Linked DNA regions of Homo sapiens. The protein of the gene in region 3 purifies or fractionates together with the protein of the main gene of each other region. This does not show direct contact. Each region holds a gene or a part of one and is shown on either strand. Other genes may lie near its edges.

The links.
Region 1: the proteins of ADD2 (region 3) and VPS13A purify together in Homo sapiens (affinity purification with western blotting; one study listed by BioGRID). This does not show direct contact.
Region 2: the proteins of ADD2 (region 3) and ALDH16A1 purify together in Homo sapiens (affinity purification with mass spectrometry; one large-scale study listed by BioGRID and IntAct). This does not show direct contact.
Region 4: the proteins of ADD2 (region 3) and ROCK1 purify together in Homo sapiens (affinity purification with mass spectrometry; 2 studies listed by BioGRID and IntAct, with this or other methods). This does not show direct contact.

Annotation. Positions count from the first base shown.
Region 1 is NC_000009.12:77,312,496-77,317,512, forward strand, and holds part of VPS13A (intermembrane lipid transfer protein VPS13A), read left to right. Parts: intron 1-1,496; coding exon 1,497-1,624; intron 1,625-1,999; coding exon 2,000-2,169; intron 2,170-2,757; coding exon 2,758-2,975; intron 2,976-3,678; coding exon 3,679-3,911; intron 3,912-5,017. UniProt on the Homo sapiens protein: Mediates the transfer of lipids between membranes at organelle contact sites. Binds phospholipids. Required for the formation or stabilization of ER-mitochondria contact sites which enable transfer of lipids between the ER and mitochondria.
Region 2 is NC_000019.10:49,455,187-49,460,203, reverse strand, and holds part of ALDH16A1 (aldehyde dehydrogenase family 16 member A1), read right to left. Parts: intron 3,389-5,017; exon of another isoform or gene 3,281-3,388; coding exon of another isoform or gene 3,278-3,280; intron 1,719-3,277; coding exon 1,616-1,718; intron 1,245-1,615; coding exon 1,118-1,244; intron 535-1,117; coding exon 356-534; intron 1-355.
Region 3 is NC_000002.12:70,757,373-70,762,389, forward strand, and holds part of ADD2 (beta-adducin), read right to left. Parts: intron 1-5,017. UniProt on the Homo sapiens protein: Membrane-cytoskeleton-associated protein that promotes the assembly of the spectrin-actin network. Binds to the erythrocyte membrane receptor SLC2A1/GLUT1 and may therefore provide a link between the spectrin cytoskeleton to the plasma membrane.
Region 4 is NC_000018.10:21,101,335-21,106,351, forward strand, and holds part of ROCK1 (rho-associated protein kinase 1), read right to left. Parts: intron 1-5,017. UniProt on the Homo sapiens protein: Protein kinase which is a key regulator of the actin cytoskeleton and cell polarity.

The DNA.
Region 1 (5,017 bases), on a different chromosome or scaffold from region 3:
AGCTCACTGCAAGCTCCGCCTCCCGGGTTCACACCATTCTCCTGCCTCAGCCTCCCAAGTAGCTGGGATTACAGGTGCCCGCCACCATGCCTGGCTAATTTTTTGTACTTTTAGTAGAGACGGGTTAGCCAGGATGGTCTCGATCGCCTGACCTCGTGATCCGCCTGCCTTGGCCTCCCAAAGTGCTGGGATTACAGGTGTGAGCCACCATGCCCAGCCGTTCATATAATTATTTATCAGGAAAACTTCACAGTTCACCAGATGAGATAAGTTGTAGAAGACTGACAACATCAAAGGTTGACAAGAATGTGGAACAGCTGCAATTCTCACATACGACTGATAGGAATGTGAAATAGTATTACCACTTTGGCAAAGAATTTGAAAGTTAATATGTACCTACCTTTAACAGAGCAATTCCAGACCTAGGTATCTACTCCCACCCCACCCCAAAATAAGTGCATATATACACAAAATGACTCATTTAGGAATACGTATAGCAGACTTATTTATAGTAGCCCAAATCTGGAAACAACTCAAATGTTCATCAATAGGAGGATAAACTATTTCATTCCATAGAGTGCATGACTAGCTATAAGAGTGAACTACTTGTACATGCAGCAACATGGTTGAATCTCAGAAACATTATTTTGACTGAAAGAAGCCACACACAAAATAGTACAATCTGTATTACTCCATTTATATGGAATTTAAAAAATATACAAAATTCGTCTATGATGATTGAAATTAGAATGGTAGAGAGGTTGGGAATTGGCTAGCAAGTGTTAAGAGGGAACTTTCTGGAGGGATATAAGTGTTCAGTATCTTAATTGAAGTAGTGACTATGTGGAAATATACACTTATCAAATTTCATCAAATAGTTCATATAAGATACATGTATTTCATTGTATGTAAATTTTTATCACAATTGAAAATACATTACCTGGCATAATGGTACTTTTCTCTGAAGTTAGATATAATGAGAATTAGAAAGTGCTGCGTTTTCATTTTAAGCTCATTTAATATGTGCATATAATGCCTTGATTCAAAATTCAAATGTAGAAAACAAATTTTGAATTCTTCTGATTAGTAGAAAAATTTTAAAAATGTCTCTTGGTTTTAGTTTTTTAAAGTAAAATTTGAATACTGAATTATGTGCCAGTTACTGTAATATGCATTTTACATGTGCTATTTTACTTAATCTCCAAACATACTCAGTGATTAGTTCTATTTTTCCTTGGAACAGAACAGAAGTAGGAACAGAAGCATCAAGAGGAAATAGAAACACCAAGTGTTCAATTAATATTCCCAAATTATTATGGAAAGAGTCCTAAGCCAGAAGTTACTGAGTTTTACATCTGAATTTTCTAATATTTTATTTTCTTGAATGTCATTTTACTATACCTGTTTAATAATTCTATTAAATCTATTTCAAGGGTATTTTAATGAGCTACTTTTCATGATATTTTCTTTTATTAAATAACTTTAATTTTTTCAAGGAGCAACTGTGGTGACAGCTGCTGTGGTAGAAGTACATTCACGTGCCTTACTAGTTAAGACAACACTAAACATAAGCTTCAAAACTGATGATCTCACCATGGTGCTGTATAGTCCAGGTCCTAAACAGGTAAGTCCAGGAAGAAAAGAAAATGTATTTTCACATGTGAAATTTGCATAGGTTGATGTTTTTAAAGTAACAAATGTTAATATTTAACATTTATTTTGTAGTATCTGTCCCTCTGAGAAAAATGATCTTTTTACTTTAATAATAATTATAACTATTTCCCTTTTAAATGAGTTATCTATCATATAGCTAATGTGAAAAATAAATTGTAAAATTAAAGTGATATGTATATATTTTTAGCCTTTCATTAGAGCCCTTCGGAGACAGAATTTTGATGTTTGTTATAAGCAGAGGCAATAATTTGTAGTAGTTCATATCATGAAATACACTTTAGACTTGTGTTTCTTTGTAATTTTGTGTTGGTTTCTCCTTTCATAGGCTTCCTTTACAGATGTTCGTGATCCTTCTCTGAAACTTGCTGAATTTAAATTGGAGAATATTATAAGTACTTTAAAAATGTATACAGATGGCTCAACATTTTCTTCCTTCTCATTAAAAAACTGTATTTTAGATGATAAAAGACCTCATGTCAAGAAAGCAACTCCTCGGTATGTATTGTAATGATGTTCTAAGGTTTTACTTGAGAAATCGTTGATATATTTTACAGAATTCATCTCCAGAATTGCACGTTCATTTTCTGAGTGCATCCTAGGTTCTTTAAAGCTTCAATTCAGTCAGCTCGTAGTACTCGGTTAACATTTAAAATGTCCTGGTTCTGTTATGTACTATTCTTACTGGATAATTGATAGATTGGTTGAGTAACTAGAAATAATCAGTGCAATTAAATTGGTTTTTACATTCTTTAAATTACATTCTCTAATATAAATCTAATATAAGTTATTGTTAATCCATGCTAATTGCAATGGGAAGTACATAAAAAATTGAAAAGAAAAAATATCCTGAGATTCAAACTCTTATAATTTATTGAACATACACTTCCTCATTTATGATACATTTGTGTTCCAGAAGTTTGTAAGTTTGTTATTTGGAACACTTTATGGATCTTCCCAAGAGACATGACTTCAGAATGCTTTTTTTTGTCAGTAAAAGAGATAAGAGGTCTTTGAGTTTTACTCATATGTTTGATTACTTCTAAGTTACTCATACATAGGAATTGTTGTTATTGTGTTTTCCAGAATGATAGGACTGACAGTTGGTTTTGACAAAAAAGACATGATGGATATAAAGTACAGGAAAGTCAGAGATGGTTGTGTGACTGATGCGGTCTTTCAAGAAATGTATATTTGTGCAAGCGTAGAATTTCTGCAGACTGTTGCAAATGTCTTTCTTGAGGCCTACACCACAGGCACTGCTGTAGAAACCAGTGTGCAAACATGGACTGCTAAGGAAGAAGGTTAGTTATTGGCTAAAATATTTAATATTTGTTTTATTGAAGTGCTACAACAGGACTTAACCTTGATTAGCCTTTTAGATCATCAAAGTAAATGCTTTAAGAAATTAAAATTTTATTTTTCAGAGTAGAAGGAAAACCTTAATGTGTTTTCTTGGAGGATGTATAGTTTGCATTTTTTAAAGGTGTCAGTATATATTGCATTTAAAAATTATGAAACCTATGTTAGAATAAGTAATTGTACTTCTCTTCAGGCAGTAATTTGAAGGAATTTGTCTAGTGGAAAAAAACAAGCAGAGCAAATAATGAACCAACCATACCTTTTCACAATTAAGATAATATTTCAATTTAAAGCACTCATTTATTTTTGTTGTATTTATTCCTAGCTTTTAACGTACGGTTTCTCTATTATCTTTTTATAATATGTGATTTACTGTGGTATAGTAGAAAGAGTATCAAGTTGAGAGTTAGAAACTAGATTAGTTTCTAGGCTTTCCAATTAAATAGTGGAGATTTCCCCTCATTTAAAAATGTTCTTATGCCTATAGCTTCTTCAAGTCTTTACTAAGGGTTGTAGTTGATTCCTTTGGGATCTAAGATTCTTTTGTTTTACTTTTTACTATTATTTCATTTTAATATTTTCTTATAAATAATAAATTATTCATAATATATAGCAAATATTTTAATCTATTTTTATTTGTTTTAGTACCTACACAGGAATCAGTGAAGTGGGAAATTAATGTTATTATTAAAAATCCTGAAATTGTGTTTGTAGCTGACATGACAAAAAATGATGCTCCTGCTTTAGTCATTACAACACAATGTGAAATTTGCTATAAAGGTAACCTTGAAAATAGTACAATGACTGCTGCCATTAAAGATCTCCAAGTGAGAGCCTGCCCGTTTCTTCCAGTCAAGAGAAAAGGCAAAATCACTACTGTGAGTTAACTATTTGATCATCTGCTTAATTGTAACTATTTTGGATGTAGTGTATACCATTTTAGGAAACAAAAACTACCTACATGCTTTCCAACCTTGCTCTGTAAAATGTCTTTCTCTCTGCTTAGAGAGCTTAATTTAGAATATTATTTACCAGCTTTGAAACTCTTTCATTCTTCCAGATGCTGCTCATTATTGTTAGTATTTGTGGGAATATTGTCACTAAGAAGTTGGGTTCATCTTGACAGTTTTCAGTTAAGATCTACTTTGACTTTCTAACCATGTCAATTCCAAATTGCTCTTTGGACTTTTAAGACTTTCTGCCAGTTGTTTGCTGTGTTGTTTCAATTTTATTGTTTCAACTTTTTTCTCCCGTTTGGATGTTTTTGCTCAAATAATGAGTTTTTCCTTGTCTCCATGTAACTTCATTTGAACCTTCAGCCATTTGCTTTGACATACTTCACATTGATATTTTACTCTCTAGTAACCTCTTGGCCTTCCTCCTCTTCATAACTCTACTTAAAATTCATTCCTTTACAGACATCTTTTCAAGTTAACTGGCTGACTTCCAGCGAATACTTACAAAAATATTTGAGCTTCTGAAGGAGTAATAGAAGCATAAGTTTTTGTTTGTTTCTTTGTATTTTTTTCCTGATGCTTGGTATGCATCTATAGAAGCATAAATGTTCTAAACATTGTCACCATAGAAATATAAGATGTAATTTTGATACAATGAATACATATATATTAGGATATAAGATAAACTGTTGCCCAAATTTGCAAGACAGTTGGCCCTCCACTAAGCAAAGAGAGAGAATAGAAAATGGAGGGTATACCAATTCTCTCTTAGTTTTTGACTTAGAAGTTTTAAATATATATTTCTTCTATTCACATCTTTTTTGGCTTGAATATAGCTGTATGACCACACTTTACTTCAGTAAAGGTTGGAGACTGTGGTATTTTTTTCTGAGCTACCTTGTGCTCAGATAAAACTTCTATTACTGTGGAAGAATAGAACAGATATTAGGTTCTAGATGTCCTTTATATGGGATAATTAAGGAGTGTATTATTAAGTCACTTTTTAAATAGTTGTTTTTATTAACTTG
Region 2 (5,017 bases), on a different chromosome or scaffold from region 3:
CGGTGGCTCATGCCTGTAATCCCAGCACTTTGGGATGCCAAGGCAGGTGAATCATCTGAGGTTAGGAGTTTGAGACCAGCCTGACCAACATGATGAGACCCCTCTTCTCTAATAAAAATATAACAATTAGCCAGGTGTGGTGGTGGGTGCCTGTAATTCCAGCTACTCAGGAGGCTGAGGCAGGAGAATCACTTGAACCCGGGAGGCGGAGGTTATAGTGAGCCAAGATTGCGCCACTGCACTCCGGCCTGGGCGACAAGAGCGAAACTCTGTCTAAAAGAAAAAGAATGAGGGGACTGGAGCTAGCACTGCTGAGTCATGTGGGAGGATAGGGCTAGGGACTCCAGGGTCTCACCCATGGGCTCCCAGCCTGCCAGTGCCTCCTCCTGGGTGGATGCCTGGATTGCATGGTAGTGGAGCAGCTGCTGGGCCAGCTGGACGTCCCCGTCTCGAACCTCTCGAACAGCCCGCCCAGTCACCAGGGATTCCAGGGTCCACAGCAGCCGCTGGTGCTTCTGGATCACCTCGGCCAGCCTGTCGAGAAAGCAAGAGGGTGCTCATTTTCCAACGGCCCTCAGCCTTGCAGAGTCCTGGGCTGCTCCTATATACCTGGACTACAATCCCCATGAGCCCCTGAGGCATCCCCACCATTTACCTGGGGCAGAGGGCAGTGAAGATTTATGAGAATTATAGTCATGGAAACACAAACCCTGAGGATGCTGTGTAAAGGTCTTGGCCGCCGGAAATCCCTGAAGCTTTTGGGAAATTGAGTCTTAGCTTCTAACCTCAATTGCGTTTTGGGAAATGGAATTTTTGTCTCTAGCTTCCCCGCAAGCGGCTAGGAAATGGATTTAGGGGCTTCACCAGCCCCAGTGAACTGAGCCCCAATGCACTCCAAGAATGTCCTGGGAAATAGAGGCTTTGTGGCTTCTAGTCCCAGTGAATAGTGGACAACGGATGCATGTTTCAGCCACGACTGCCTCCAGCACATACTGGGAATCTGAGCCTTAGCTGCAAATTAATTCAGTGGGATCTTGGGAAATAGCCTTTGTTCCCATGGTCTCGAGTGGATGCTGGGGTTCCCCGCCTCCCGGGGTCCACACCTCAGCTGCATCACCTGGTCAGGTGCTGGGCCCGGACGACGCCGGGGTGCGCACTCCAGCCCTTAAATGCCATCCTGGCTGCCTCCACGGCTGCAGCCACATCCTCGGCCTGTGCCTGCAGGCAACTGGCCAAGTTCTCTCCTGGGGAGAAAAGTGGGGGGACTCAGATGGGAGGAGTAGCCCATGTCATATCTGGAGGGGGCTGAGATTTTCGGAGCCTGGATCAGCCCAAGAGTGTAAAGCTGGTCCCCATTCTCTGCTGGGTCACGGCTATGATCACCTCCAGGGCAAGGAAGCTATTTTAACAGACAGCAGTCTCACAAAGCCTCCACAGAGACCCGGAACCATAATTAGGGTGACTGGTTTCAGAAGGAACCAGACATCGCAGCCCATCTCCCACCACCAGCTGTTTCCTGCCCTCAGGGCCCTAGGCAAGGGGAATGGGTGTTGGTGGGTAGGGCTAGAGGGCACAGATACCTCCCTTCCACTAATGACTGGGGGACATCTCGTACCTGTGATGGGATCCTGGCAAGGCACTGAATTTCTGTGTTCAGGCTTTAACCACTTCCCATTCACATAGTGGCCCAAGCACCGGTCCTGGGTGTCCAGCCAGGCCTGGGGGAGGTAGAGACAGTTTGGAAAGGGGTTCGGGAGGAGCTGGGGCAGTTCAACCCCTACCCAGAATCCTCTAGGAGGGGACGTCTGTCTCCCTCTGCCCCATCAGCTAATTCTTTTCCTCCTATTGCTTTAAAAAAAAAGTTTGTGGTAAAATAGAGCATTTCAAAGTGTATAGTTCAGCAGTTTAGTGGCATTCTGTGCATTTACAGTGTTGTGTAACCATCACCACTCTAGTTCTAGAACATTTTTTCATTTTTTTTTTTTGAGACTGAGTCTTGCTCTGTCACCCAGGCTGGAGTGCAGTGGCATGATCTCAGCTCACTGCAAGCTCCGCCTCCTGGGTTCACGCTATTCTCCCGCCTCAATCTCCTGAGTAGCTGGGACTACAGGCGCCCGCCACCACATGCGGCTAGTTTTGTTTTTGTATTTTTAGTAGAGACGGGGTTTCACCATGTTGGTCAGGCTGGTCTTGAACTCCTGACCTCAAGTGATCTGCACGCCTTGGCCTCCCAAAGTGCTGGGATTATGGATGTGTCAACATCTTTAATTCATTCAATTAGGGTCTCAACTGAGTCCTTGGGCTGGTGCCACAACAGTGGCACCTATTTGGAGTCCACTTTGGGAGGCCGAGGTGGTCTGAGCCTAGGCATTCAAGACCAGCCTGGGCAACATGGTGAAAGCTCATCTCTACAAAAAATACAAAAAGTTAGCCGGGTGTGGTGGTGAGTGCCTGTAGTCCCAGCTACCTGGGAGTCTGAGGTGGGAGGATCACTTGAGCCCAGGAGGTAGAGGCTGTAGTAAGCCAAGATCACGCCACTGCACTCCAGCCTGAGTAACAGAGCAAGGCTCTGTCTCAAAGAAAAAAAATTTTTTTACCACATCTCACTCACCACATCTCCTCCATATTTCTTTCTTTCTTTTTTTTTTTTTTGTTTGAGACAGAGTCTTGCTCTGTCACCCAGGCTGGAGTGCAGTGGCGCGATCTCTGCTCACTGCAAGGTCCGCCTCCTGGATTCACGCCATTCTCCTGCCTCAGGCTCCCGAGTAGCTGGGACTACATGCGCCTGCCACCACGCCTGGCTAATTTTTTTGTATTTTTAGTAGAGATGGGGTTTCACTGTGTTAGCCAGGATGGTCTTGATCTCCTGACCTCGTGATCCGCCCGCCTCGGCCTCCCAAAGTGCTGAGATTACAGGCGTGAGCCACTGCGCCCGGACTTCTCCTCCATATTTCTTTCTCATCCTGGTCACGTCTTCCCTGATGCTAAATCCAAAGCACACTGCTCACTTGCTCCTTCTACAGACTCCCCTAGCATCTCTGATGTCACATATTCCTGATTTTTCTCTTACTGGCCCTTCTTTCTTTTTTTTTTTTGAGATGGAGTCTTGCTCTTGTCTCCCAGGCTGGAGTGCAATGGTGCGATCTCAGCTCACTGCAACCTCCGCCTCCTGGGTTCACGTGATTCTCCTACCTCAGCCTCCCAAGTAGCTGGGATTACAGGCGGCCGCCACCATGCCCAGCTAATTTATATATTTCTAGTAGAGATGGGTTTTTACCATGTTGGCCAGGCTGGTCTCGAACTCCTGGCCTCAGGTGATCCACTCGCCTCGGCCTCCCAAAGTGCTGGGATTACAAGCATGAGCCACTGTGCCTGGCTTCTCCTTTCTCTTTAAAGCAAAAAAGTTACTTAGAAGTTCCAAACTCAAACGCCCACAGGGAGAGAGACATCTGTGAGAAAGTCAGGGATATTTGAACATGAACTGGGCATCAGATGACATTAAAGAATGATTGTTGGCCGGGCATGGTAGCTCACATCTGTAATCCCTGCACTTTCCCACGCTGAGACGGGAGGATTGCTTGAGCTGAGGAGTTTGAGACTAGTCTGGACCTACACAGCAAGACCCCATCTCTACAAAAATAAAAGTAAAAAATTTGCCAGTCATGATGATGCACACTTGTAGTCTCAGCTAGTCAGGAGGCTGGGGTGGGAGGATTGCTTGGGTCCAGGAGTTTCAGGCTGCAGTGAGCTATGAACGCTACTGAATGCTAGCCTGGGCGACAGAGTAAGATCCTGTCTCAAACAAACAAACAAAAAACAAAAAGAATGACTTAATGTTAAGTGTGGTAACAGACCATGGTAGTTTTGTAACAAAATGAGCCCTTATCTGTTAGAAGAAAGGATTCAAATATTTATAGGAAAATACTGTGACATCCAGGATTTGTTTAAATTACTCCAAAGAAAATACAGAAGGAAACAGCGCTGGGATAAATGTTGATGATGGTTGAGGCACAGTGATGGGTAAACAGGAGTTCAAAATAAATGCTAATTATTCTGTGCAAGTTGGAAAGCTTCCCCCCAAAAGAAAAACAAAATTCCAAAAGAATGTCCAGAGGGTTCCAGGAGGCCTGAGAAGAGGGCCTGGATGAGAAGAGGAGCTTAACGATTCATGGAAAAGACAGGAGCTATTGGTCCCAGATGACTTTTGTCAGGGAAGTTGAGCCAAATGTTGACACATTTTGGAATTTTATTTTCAAGAGGACCTCCCGGATGTTTACATGGAATCAATTGTCCAGCATTTCACATAAAAAAAAAATAAAGTTCACGCCAAAGAAAACATGTTTGTTGGTTGAGTCTGGCCCAGAGACTGTACGGTTGAGAACTTTGCTGGTGTAGGCAAGACCACGGGTCTGAAATGCAAGGACTCAAGTCCAAGTCTCAACTTCACTTTTTATGTTTTATTTTTATATTAATAGAGATAGGGCCTCACCATGTTGCCCAGGCTGGTCTCAAACTCCTAGGTGCGAGTGATCCTCCTGCCTCGGTCTCCCAAACTGCTGGGATTACAGGTGTGAGCCACTTGCCTGGCCTCAACTTCTTTTTTTTTCAGGGGGGACAGGGTCTTATTCTGTCACCCAGGCTGGAGTTCAGTGGTATGATCACTGCACCTCCCAGGCTCAGGTGATCCTCCCACCTCAGCCTCCCGGGTAGCTGGGACTACAGGTGTGTGCTGCCATCCTCGGCTAATCTTTTGTTTTCTGTTTCCTTTTTTTTTTTTTTTTTTTTTTGAGATGGAGTTTTGCTCTTGTTGCCCAGGCTGGAGTGCAGTGGCGTGGTCTCGGCTCACTGCAATCTCCACCTCCTGGGTTCAAGCGATTCTCCTGCCCCAGCCTCCCAAGTAGCTGGGATTACAGGTGCCTGCCACCACGCCCAGCTAATTTTTTGTATTTTTAGTAGAGATGGGTTTCACCATCTTGGCCAGGCTGGTCTCGATCTCCTGACCTCATGATCCGCCCGC
Region 3 (5,017 bases):
TGCCTTAAAAACTAAAAGTTTGGGGACAGGAGACGAATAAAGAAAAATAATGATATATTTTATGAAATAAGAGAGAGGAAGTCTCACACACAGTATGGTGGGAATGAGTGTGGAATGGTTAAGCTGGATACTGCATAACTATGGTAACAGACGTAGCTAATTTAAGACACAAATGAGGGTGTTGGAAAGATTTAAGAGAAATATGGTGTTAAGAGGGAAGGAGAATAAATTCTAAAAAAAGGGATGCTGAGATAATCAGTATGGATGCTCTGCCATCTGACATGAGGAAAGCAGGAAAGAATCAAACCCGCCCTCACTTTTCCTGTCCTGTCTTTTCACGGTAGATTTTTGAAAGTAAACCCCTAGATATTCTTATGGAGACTCCATGCCGAGTAAAGAAAGCAAACATGATAAAATTCATACTCAATAAAATAACACAAGCAGAAAATCACATCCATTGTTAAATGAAATTGTTTCATAAAGCCTCCATGCATTTCAAAGTTTAATAACTTCATTTGTTCTTTGAGAAAAACAATTTAAAAATAACATTCAAATGCCCTTGTATTGATTTTCCCTTCAATAAAATGATTCACAATCAAGCACAAACATTTAACGACCCTTTCAAAATTCCACAGAAAATTACCGAAGGAACGTAAAAATAGGAACAAATCTCCATCACTTCTGGTTACCAGGGAGGCTGCCATTCACGCGGCAGGAACTGTGAGGGATCGACATCTTTATAACATCGGTTCTTCCCATCTGGGAACATGACATTCTGTTTCTTGAGTAAATATTGGTAATGCATATTTTCAGTGGAAATAGTCCATTTCATCAAGATTTTCACAGATGATGGGATACAATAATGCACAATGTTCTTGAGATTTTACATCTTTTCTCCATGCTGCTCCATATGTCATTTCTAGCTTTGTGAATTTTTTTGCCTTTGTATCTTAATTAGGCTTTCTGGAAGTTTGCCTATTTTATTGGCTTTCTAAAAGAACTAACTGGCTGGATAAAAGGTGGGGAGAGGGCATATAAGGAGGTGGAAAGAGTTGTTTTGGAAGGGTTGGGAGGGTGGGAAAGCATGTTCAGAAAAATGGAGTAGTTCAGCCTACCTAGAGGGTAGAGCGTAAAGGAAAAAGAGGAAAAGCAGTTGAGGCAGGTAAGGAGCTTGGGCTTTATCCGGAGGGTAGAGAAATGATGAGATTAGATTTTTGTTTTAAAAAGATCAACTATGCAACATAGTGAGACCTCGTCTCTACCAGAATTTTAAAAAAAATAAGCCAGGCATGTTGGCATACACTGTACTCCCAGCTACTTGGGAGGTTGAGATGGGAGGATTGCTTGAGCCCAGGAGGTTAAGGCTGCAGTGAGCCATGATTGCACTGCTGCACTCCAGCCTGGGCAACAGAGCGAGACCTTGTCTCAGAAAAACAATAATAATAAACTATGGATGGAGGAAGACTGGGCTGGAAGCAGGGAAGAAGGTGGGGGGACTCTAAAGTAATCCAGAGTTTCAGCCAGGGGCAGTGTGGCCATATGAAACAGGAACCCAAGCAAAGTAGCCCAGGCAGAATGGAAGGCAACATCGACATGGAAACCAAAGTCTAGCCTGGACTCATGGAAACTACTAGAATTGTCATCAATTCAGGGAGCCATGGGGATGGGGTGAAGGATGTCAAATGGTCCTTAGAGCTGCTACTGATAGAAGCCACAGGGATTTACTACTTGGCTTAGAAAGTTTTTTTCAGCCACTTCACAGCTGGAAAAAAGGCACAGAGAAAACCATTCCAGGCATTAAATGGAGCACTGAAATTTGTATTCAGGTACCTAGATCCTAAGCTCCCTGGCCTCCAGATCCTGCCCTGGAAGCTTGCAGGATGAGGCCCTATGTTAGATCAAATACATTACAGGTATTTACTGCTGGGTGGAATAGCGTTTATTTACATACTTTTGTATCTTTATTTTTAGCTGCATCTGGTGAAGTGATCAGAATCAACCTTGTTTGAAGCTGGATATATTAAATCCCCACTTTACTGGGAGCTCCCTCAGCACATGTCTGAGGAACTGAGGGTGCTGTGGTTTGGATATTTGATCCCTCCAAAGCCCATGTTGAAGGAGGGGGTACCTGGTGGGAGGTGTTTGGGTCATGGTGGTGGATCCCTCATGAATGGCTTGGAGCCATTCTTGCAGTAGTGAGTGAGTTCTCACTCTTTTCATTCCCATGACAGCTGGTTGTTAAGAAGAGCCTGGCATCTCCTCCCCTCTCTCTTGCTTCCTCTCTTGCCATGTGATCTCTGCACACGCCAGCTCCCCTTTGCTTTCTGTCAGGAGTGGAAGTGGCCTGAGGCTTCCACAAGCTGCCCAGTCTTCCAGCCAGTAGAATCATGAGAAAAGTAAACCTTTTCTCTATAAATTACCCAGCCTTGGATATTCCTTCATAGCAACACAGGCAGACTAAGATGGGGATCTGCCACTCAAGGTGGCAGTGCTGATAGATTTCCCACGGCCCTTAGATTTATATCCCTCATCCCCACCCCACTGACCATACCACAGCCCATCTAGCCCTGTTTCATTGAGCCTGGGGATACTAGCACTCAGCTGAGAGGACACCACTGCTTCTTCCCAGGAAAGCCCCTTGTTGATACTCATGGGCTGGGTGATATTGGCTGGCACCATCTGTACTCTAACTTTTACAGAGTCCTTAAAGAATCTAGGCCCAGTGTTTGTTCTCTTCTCTAAAACTCAAATCGATGTTTTCCTTACTATATTTGTCTTTGGACACTTTGAAGAAAAGAAAGGCAAATATTTAGGTCCATGGTGCCATCTTGAAACCTACACGTGCGTGTTTATAACCCTGAACCTGCAACTCAGATCTCGGGTCCCAGCCATGACACATGCATACGTCTGCCTCTCTGCTGGCCATCCCCACCTCAAACTCGTCTTGTCTAAAACTGACCACTGTCTTACACAAACCACTTCCTTCTTGGCTGTGCTGGATTCCCCAATTTAGAGCACCAAGCAAAGTAGGGCTCCAAATATTCTTGGAATAAATTTGATATATATTTTTTGAAGCATCAAAGTAGTCACCATGGAGATGTTATAACAATGAATAAGATACAAATGGTACAGTTCTAATTTTTTAAAGTTTCAGAGAAACAAGTCTGATGTACTTTGTTTGAGGATGCAAATTTAGATTATAAAATTATAAAAGCAAGCAAGAAAATGGTTACCATAAAAGGAAGGTGAGTTGTTACCTCCAGGGGGAAGCAGGGTGTGGTTCAAGGGTGCACTGGGCTCTGGGAGCTGGCTGTGTCCTGCTTCTTGACCTGCATGGTGGTCACACGGGCATTCACTTTATAATATTTCACTAAACTGCACATTTGTTTCATGTCCTTTCCTATATCTGTGTTATGTTTTATATATTTTAAGGTTTTTTTAAATAAAGTAGTCATTACAAGGGAAAGAAACAAAACTTTTGTGGACTTTCATAGTTATTTTGATAAAGTTGGCCACAACTTATCTTCCATCATACAAAATGCCAGAAGACAAAAGAATAATATTTGGAGTTTTTAGGTAAAAAGATTAAGATGAAGAAGTGTATGCCCCAAAAGGATGATGTTACTGTGAAACAGCAACATAAAGAAGTTCTTAGGCAAGCAAGAACTACCGGAATATACTATCTTTCCTGAAAAAGATTCCAACTAATCAAGGAATAAGTAAAAATGAAGATTGAGCATAGGAAATGGACTGAGTATTGTAACCTATGTAACTCTCAGTCTAGATAGCAGCTGTTAGTATGGTTAGGAAACATAAATGTCAAAAATAATTCTGGAAAGCAAAAGCATGCATTACTTTTTTTTTTTTTTAAAGACAATAATCTGGATCTAAAAGCCAAAATGTTTTTAAGGCAAAAAGTTAGTGGGGGTAGATGGGCAACAAAAAAGAAATTAAAGCTGGGCACAGTGGCTTACACCTGTAATCCCAGCACTTTGGGAGGCCGAGGTGGGTGGATCACCTGAGATCAGGAGTTTGAGACCTGCCTGGCCAACATGGTGAAACCTGGTCTCTACTAAAAATACAAAATTAGCCGGGCGTGGTGGCAGGTGCCTGTAATCCCAGCTACTCAGGAGGCTGAGGCACAAGAATCACTTGAACCCAGGAGACAGAGGTTGCAGTGAGATGAGATTGTACCACTGCACTCCAGCCTGGGTGACAGAAAAAAAAAAAAAAAAAAGGAAGGAAGGAAGGAATTAAAGTATACTAAATCTCTCATTATTTATGAAAGAACAAATAGACACAACTTTTTTTTTTTTTGAGACAGAGTATCGTTCTGTTGCTCAGGCTGGAGTGCAGTGGTGCAATCTCGGCTCACTGCAAGCTCTGCCTCCCGGGTTCATGCCATTCTCCTGCCTCAGCCTCCCGAGTAGCTGGGACTACAGGTGCCCGCCACCACGCCTGGCTAATTTTTTGTATTTTTAGTACAGACGGGGTTTCACCATATTAGCCAGGATGGCCGATCTCCTGACCTCACGATCTACCCGCCCTGGCCTCCTGAAGTGCTGGGATTACAGGCGTGAGCCACCGCGCCTGGCCAACACAACTATATTTTTTAATGTTAATGAAGACTAGTAGAAAAAAATGGGCAGAAAATTTCCCTTTTATCTAAAGAACAAGGGACTCTTACACTACATTTAAGTTAAGAAAGGGGGTGGAAAAATAGCTTGGAATTTTTTTAATGTAAAATAAAATTTTAGAAGATCTGTGACTGTATCACATATAATAAATGTAAATTGAGTCACAATTGGATTAAAAATCCAATTATGATGCTTAAAATAGACAAAAATCAAAATGACGTAAAAGAAGAAAGCTTAAGAAGAAAGAGAATGAGCATCACACCAGGGAAATGGAAACAGAAAGAAGGCAGGACCAGATTTCTTATCACACAGTAAAATTTAAGACAAAAATAAAAATACAATGAGACAAAGCAGGTCTGGAAATATGGAAGATTCACCCC
Region 4 (5,017 bases), on a different chromosome or scaffold from region 3:
TCACAGACTGATGCCACCTGAACAGAATGATCAACCTTAGCATCACTACAGGCCAGGCAGACATTATGCACCTCCGTGTGAGGCAAAAGAAAATACAATCTATTGAGTACCCTTGACTAGAAATCTGAAATAAGTAAATCAAGCTTTTAGATCTAACTACCATTTTATAGGAAATATGGAAAATACAGGAAGAAGTTAAATTACATCATTAGGAAAGTAAAAAGAAAAATCCAGAATGTAAAACAAGGTCCTGTATAGTACCACTGACCTAGTTCCTTCAACATGCAGGGGAAGGGGAGTTGGAGAAGTTGGGGGAATGAGATTTCTCTATATTAAGAGACTTAAAAGACTCTTAAAGGACCTAACCAAAGAAAAGCAACATTTGGACTTTGGATCCAGATTCTAATAAAGCAACTGTAAAATAGACACTGTTTTAGACAATCAGAAATATGAATATAAACTGGGAATTAATGATACCAAAGCACTTTTAATTTTGCTAGGCATGATAATGGCCATTATGATTATGTAAGAAAATGTCCTTTTTTTTTTTCAAAGATGCTTATTGAAGTATGTAAGGATGAAATGACAATATATGGAATTTACTTTAAAATATTTTGGTAAGAAAAAGGGTGATTAATGAAATCAAATGTGATGACATTTTGAAAACTGCAAAATCTGAGTAACAGGAGTTCACTATCCTATTTTCCCTACTTCTGCGTATATTTGAAATTTTTATCATAAAATTACCAAACAGAATGAAAATTCACATTCTTTCCACTGTAACTACAGTTTTCAAACTTGAGTGTGTCTAAGAATCCACATCTCATGCAAATCCTAAGAATCATCCCAAAAAATTGTGATTTTGTTTGTCTACGCAAGATCCCAGATTCCATTTTTAACAAGTGCCTCAAGTGAATCTGATACAATCTACAGCCTCATATCTGAAAACTATACACTTAATTGCTTTACTACAAGTAAACCAAACCTTAAAGGAAAGTCATGATCATATCTCTTACCTGCCCTTCACCATACCCCACTCCTATCTTAGTGTGATAGACATTTAATTAATCCTTTTCCTGACACTATAAATTCCATGAAAGTGGGACATGTTTGTTTTTACTCACCATGGTGTTCCATTGCATAGCAGAATTCCTAGCACACAGTACACACCAAATAAACATTTGTCAAATGAATGAATGAATAACAGAAAAGAGAAAAAGGAAAGTTAATTGCAGTCCACTGTTTCAAAATTAGTTTGAGGGCTGGGTGCTGTGGCTCACGCCTGTAATCCTTACACTTTGGGAAGCTGAGGCCAATGGCTCACTTGAGACCAGCCTGGGCAACATGGCAAAACCCCATCTCTACCAAAAAAAATACAAAAATTAGCCAGGCATGGTGGCGCTTGCCTGTAGTCCCAGTTACTCAAGAGGCTGAGGCAGAAGAATGGCTTCAGCTCGGGAAGTGGAGGCTTCAGTGAGCTGAGATCATGCCACCACACTTCAGCCTGGGTGACAGGGCCAGACCCTGTCTCAAAAAAAAAAAAAGTAGTTCAAGACAACAATCTGAGAAAATTTTCAATTTCTTGCCAAAAATCTGGTATCAGAAGTATGGATCAATTAAGAGGGGCACAGGTTGGCCTACCCTTAATATAACACAAGTATAAGATAAACTCTCACCTCCCTGAGATATCAGACTTTGGACGTTAATTTGAACATCTACCTTCCTATTAATTGTTTAGGAACTGTAATAAAAATACACTCTATATTTCATAATCCCAAACAGAGAGGGCAAGTATACTAGAGAAGAAAATCATATCTTTACATTTTAATAGATATACAAATAAAAAATTACACTTCCTATGTTCAGAAAGTACAAACCCCTACAATTATGAACGTAAGTCACAAATTCAAAAAATAATGGCAAATATAACTATTGAAATTAATTTAGGAACTAGTTCCAAAAAAAGCACTTACTAAAGATGGTTGACAGTCTTACATTTCTACCCCAACATCATTTAACTGTTTAAGTTTTATTTCTTAAATAATAAATCAAAGACAATTTTTTGAAGTTTTAATTGAAGTGTAATAAACAAAGTCTCATAGATTTTGTTTAATAAATTTTATTTTATTATTTTTTTTTTTTGAGACAGAGTCTCACTTTGACAACCAGGCTAGAGTGCCGTGGCACCAACATGGCTCACTGCAGCCTCAATCTCCTGGGCTCAAGCGATCTTCCTACCTCAACCTCCCAAGTAGCTGAGACTACACCCAGGTAATATTTTTATTTTTTTTGTAGAGCCGAGGTCCCTCTCTGTTGCCCAGGCCGGTCTCAAACTCCTGGGCTCAAGGGATACTTGCACCTTGGCCTCCAAAAGTGCTGGGATTACAGACCACCATGCCAGGCCTATCATAGAATTTTCAGAGACACAAGAGACATCAGCAACTATCTGGTCCAACTCTTTGTTCTACAAATAGGGAAACTGAAGCCTAGATGAGAAAAATGATGTACTTCATTACACAGAGATTTAATAGCAAAACAAGACTATGCTCTGAATTTTCAGTCCAGTGTTCTTTTCACACCACACTAATGGCATATTTTTAAGAATACTTTCCATTGTGAATTGCAGTACTACCTGTTCATCTTCTTGAACACATGTGTGTCGTATCCAACAGCTATACTGTGGACTTAAACTAAATGGATATACCCCCTTTTTAGTGGGGATGAGGAATGGAGAAGTAGAGCTATTGGATTATCTTCAGCAATAGAACTCTATATATAATATTTCCTGATAAGTGGGTTTTTCTATCAATTATCGTAATAGAATCTGTAGTTTTCACCATATATCCATAACACCAAAACTTATAATCGTGAAGCAAAACTGGTGTAAAGTTATGCAAAGTCTAATCTAAAACTGAGAATTTACTCTTTATTCAACATAAAATTTTATATGTAGTTCCTTCTTCTGGATTAAAAACATTTCTGGGCAGGGTGCGGCGCTCATGCCTGTAATCCCAGCACTGTGGGAGGCTGAGGCGGGCGGATCACGAGGCCAGGAGATCGAGACCATCCTGGCTAACACGGTGAAACCCTGTCTCTACTAAAAATACAAAAAATTAGCCGGGTGCGGTGGCGGGCGCCTGTAGTCCCAGCTACTCAGGAGGCTGAGGCAGGAGAATGGCGTGAACCCAGGAGGTGGAGCTTGCAGTAAGCCAAGATAGCGCCACGGCACTTCGGACTGGGCGGAAAAAAAACATTTCTGACTCAAAAGATTAATGAATTAACCAATTCATATCTCAGCCGTTACTCTGAGCCACGTCTCTACACACCCACAGGGTGCCTGTAGTGCAAGAGGGCCTATTTACAGAACACACACTGAAAGTATAAAAGATACACACAGAAAGAGAACAAGATAACAACTCAATCTCCATAAATTAGTTCCCAATTGCCTTTTATATCCAACTAAACCCTTGGCACAAAGTATATACCATATTATAAATCACAACTAAACAAATAAACAGTCTCTAAAAGATCTTCCCCATTTATTGAATCTATTAATAAATGTCTCAATTTTCAGTTACAATTGGCTTAGACGTCAATAACGCACAGCTAGATTATGAATTTATGAGCGGCTTGAGGTGCCAGATAAATTACTCTGTACTTAGAGACGACAATAAATATCAACTTCTAGACTAAGCACACTGACTAGTATATAACAGAAATATTATAAATATGACAATATTACAAATGCTTACTAAATACCAAATGCTATGATAGTTGCTTTGACTATATTATTCAATTCTTACAACAATCTAGTACTTTTATCCCCTCTTATTTTTCTGAAGATGAAACAGCATTGAGAGGTTAAAATAACTCCCTAAAATATTTCAGCAAATACATGTCAGAGCCTAGATTTCAATCCAAGTTTAGGCCCTATACAAAGATTTGCTGAATGAATAAAAATGAATTAGGAGAGTAACTTGTTTTTTTAAAAGAAGTTCCTGCAACATACTAACATCCAAAAAAGTCTGGTCCAAACTAACCAGATATGCAATTGATACTAATAACACCTATTAACTCACAAACTAGGAACACTGGCAGAGATACAACTTTAAGGCTCAAAGATTTAATGACCTCAGGTCTTTTCATTCCAAGAGTAATATACCCCCAAAACAGATCAATTCAACTGGCAAGGCATACAGGGGATTAGACAGCAATAATCCAGATTCGAAAATGCTACCCAAAATCTGCTGTAATAACCCAATGTGTGGACTAACACTGTCAAAAAAGTTCACAACAAAAATTTCAGTTTAGCGACAGGGACAATAGTGGAATTAATGACAAAACAGATAAGTTTATGGGAGGAAGCTTGTTTTGGAATATGAGGGATTTGAGACTAACATGACATCCAAGTAGAAATGCTTACAAGGCAGTCAGATATTTAAGGTTTGAAACAAAAGACTAAAAATAAAGATTTGGGTATCATGTACATAGAGATAATAATAATTGAAGCTGTAAGAATGGATGAATTCTTCAAGAGAGTGAAGACAAAGATAAGTATGATAGGCCAAAGATTGAGGAAAAGAAAAAAAGAAGAATGAAAAGATGGGAAAGCACTAGGTCAAGAGAGCCCAGGAAGATAATTTAAAGGAAGAAAAACTCAAAGACTAACACCAGAAATTTCATTTACATTTATCTTCCACATTCTGAAAAACTCCCTAATAAGAAATAGTAGTGACAAACAGCACAGTGTTAGAACTCAACAGGCACTATTTGACTAATACTGGTTCCCTTCTGTCTCCTCCGCTCACCCGTTGCTACACCTCCACCAGCCAGAAGAGAAGTGGAAAGGTCATGTTCTTAACAGGCATCATGAAGCGATGTGCCAATAAATATGCTACAAGCAAGATATTTTCATGAAAAGTATGTCAAACTTCAAAACAAATGTATCTATAACCCTCCCAACCATTTTTGTTTTTCCTTTTTTTTGAGACAAGTTCTCACTGTGTCGTCCAGGCTG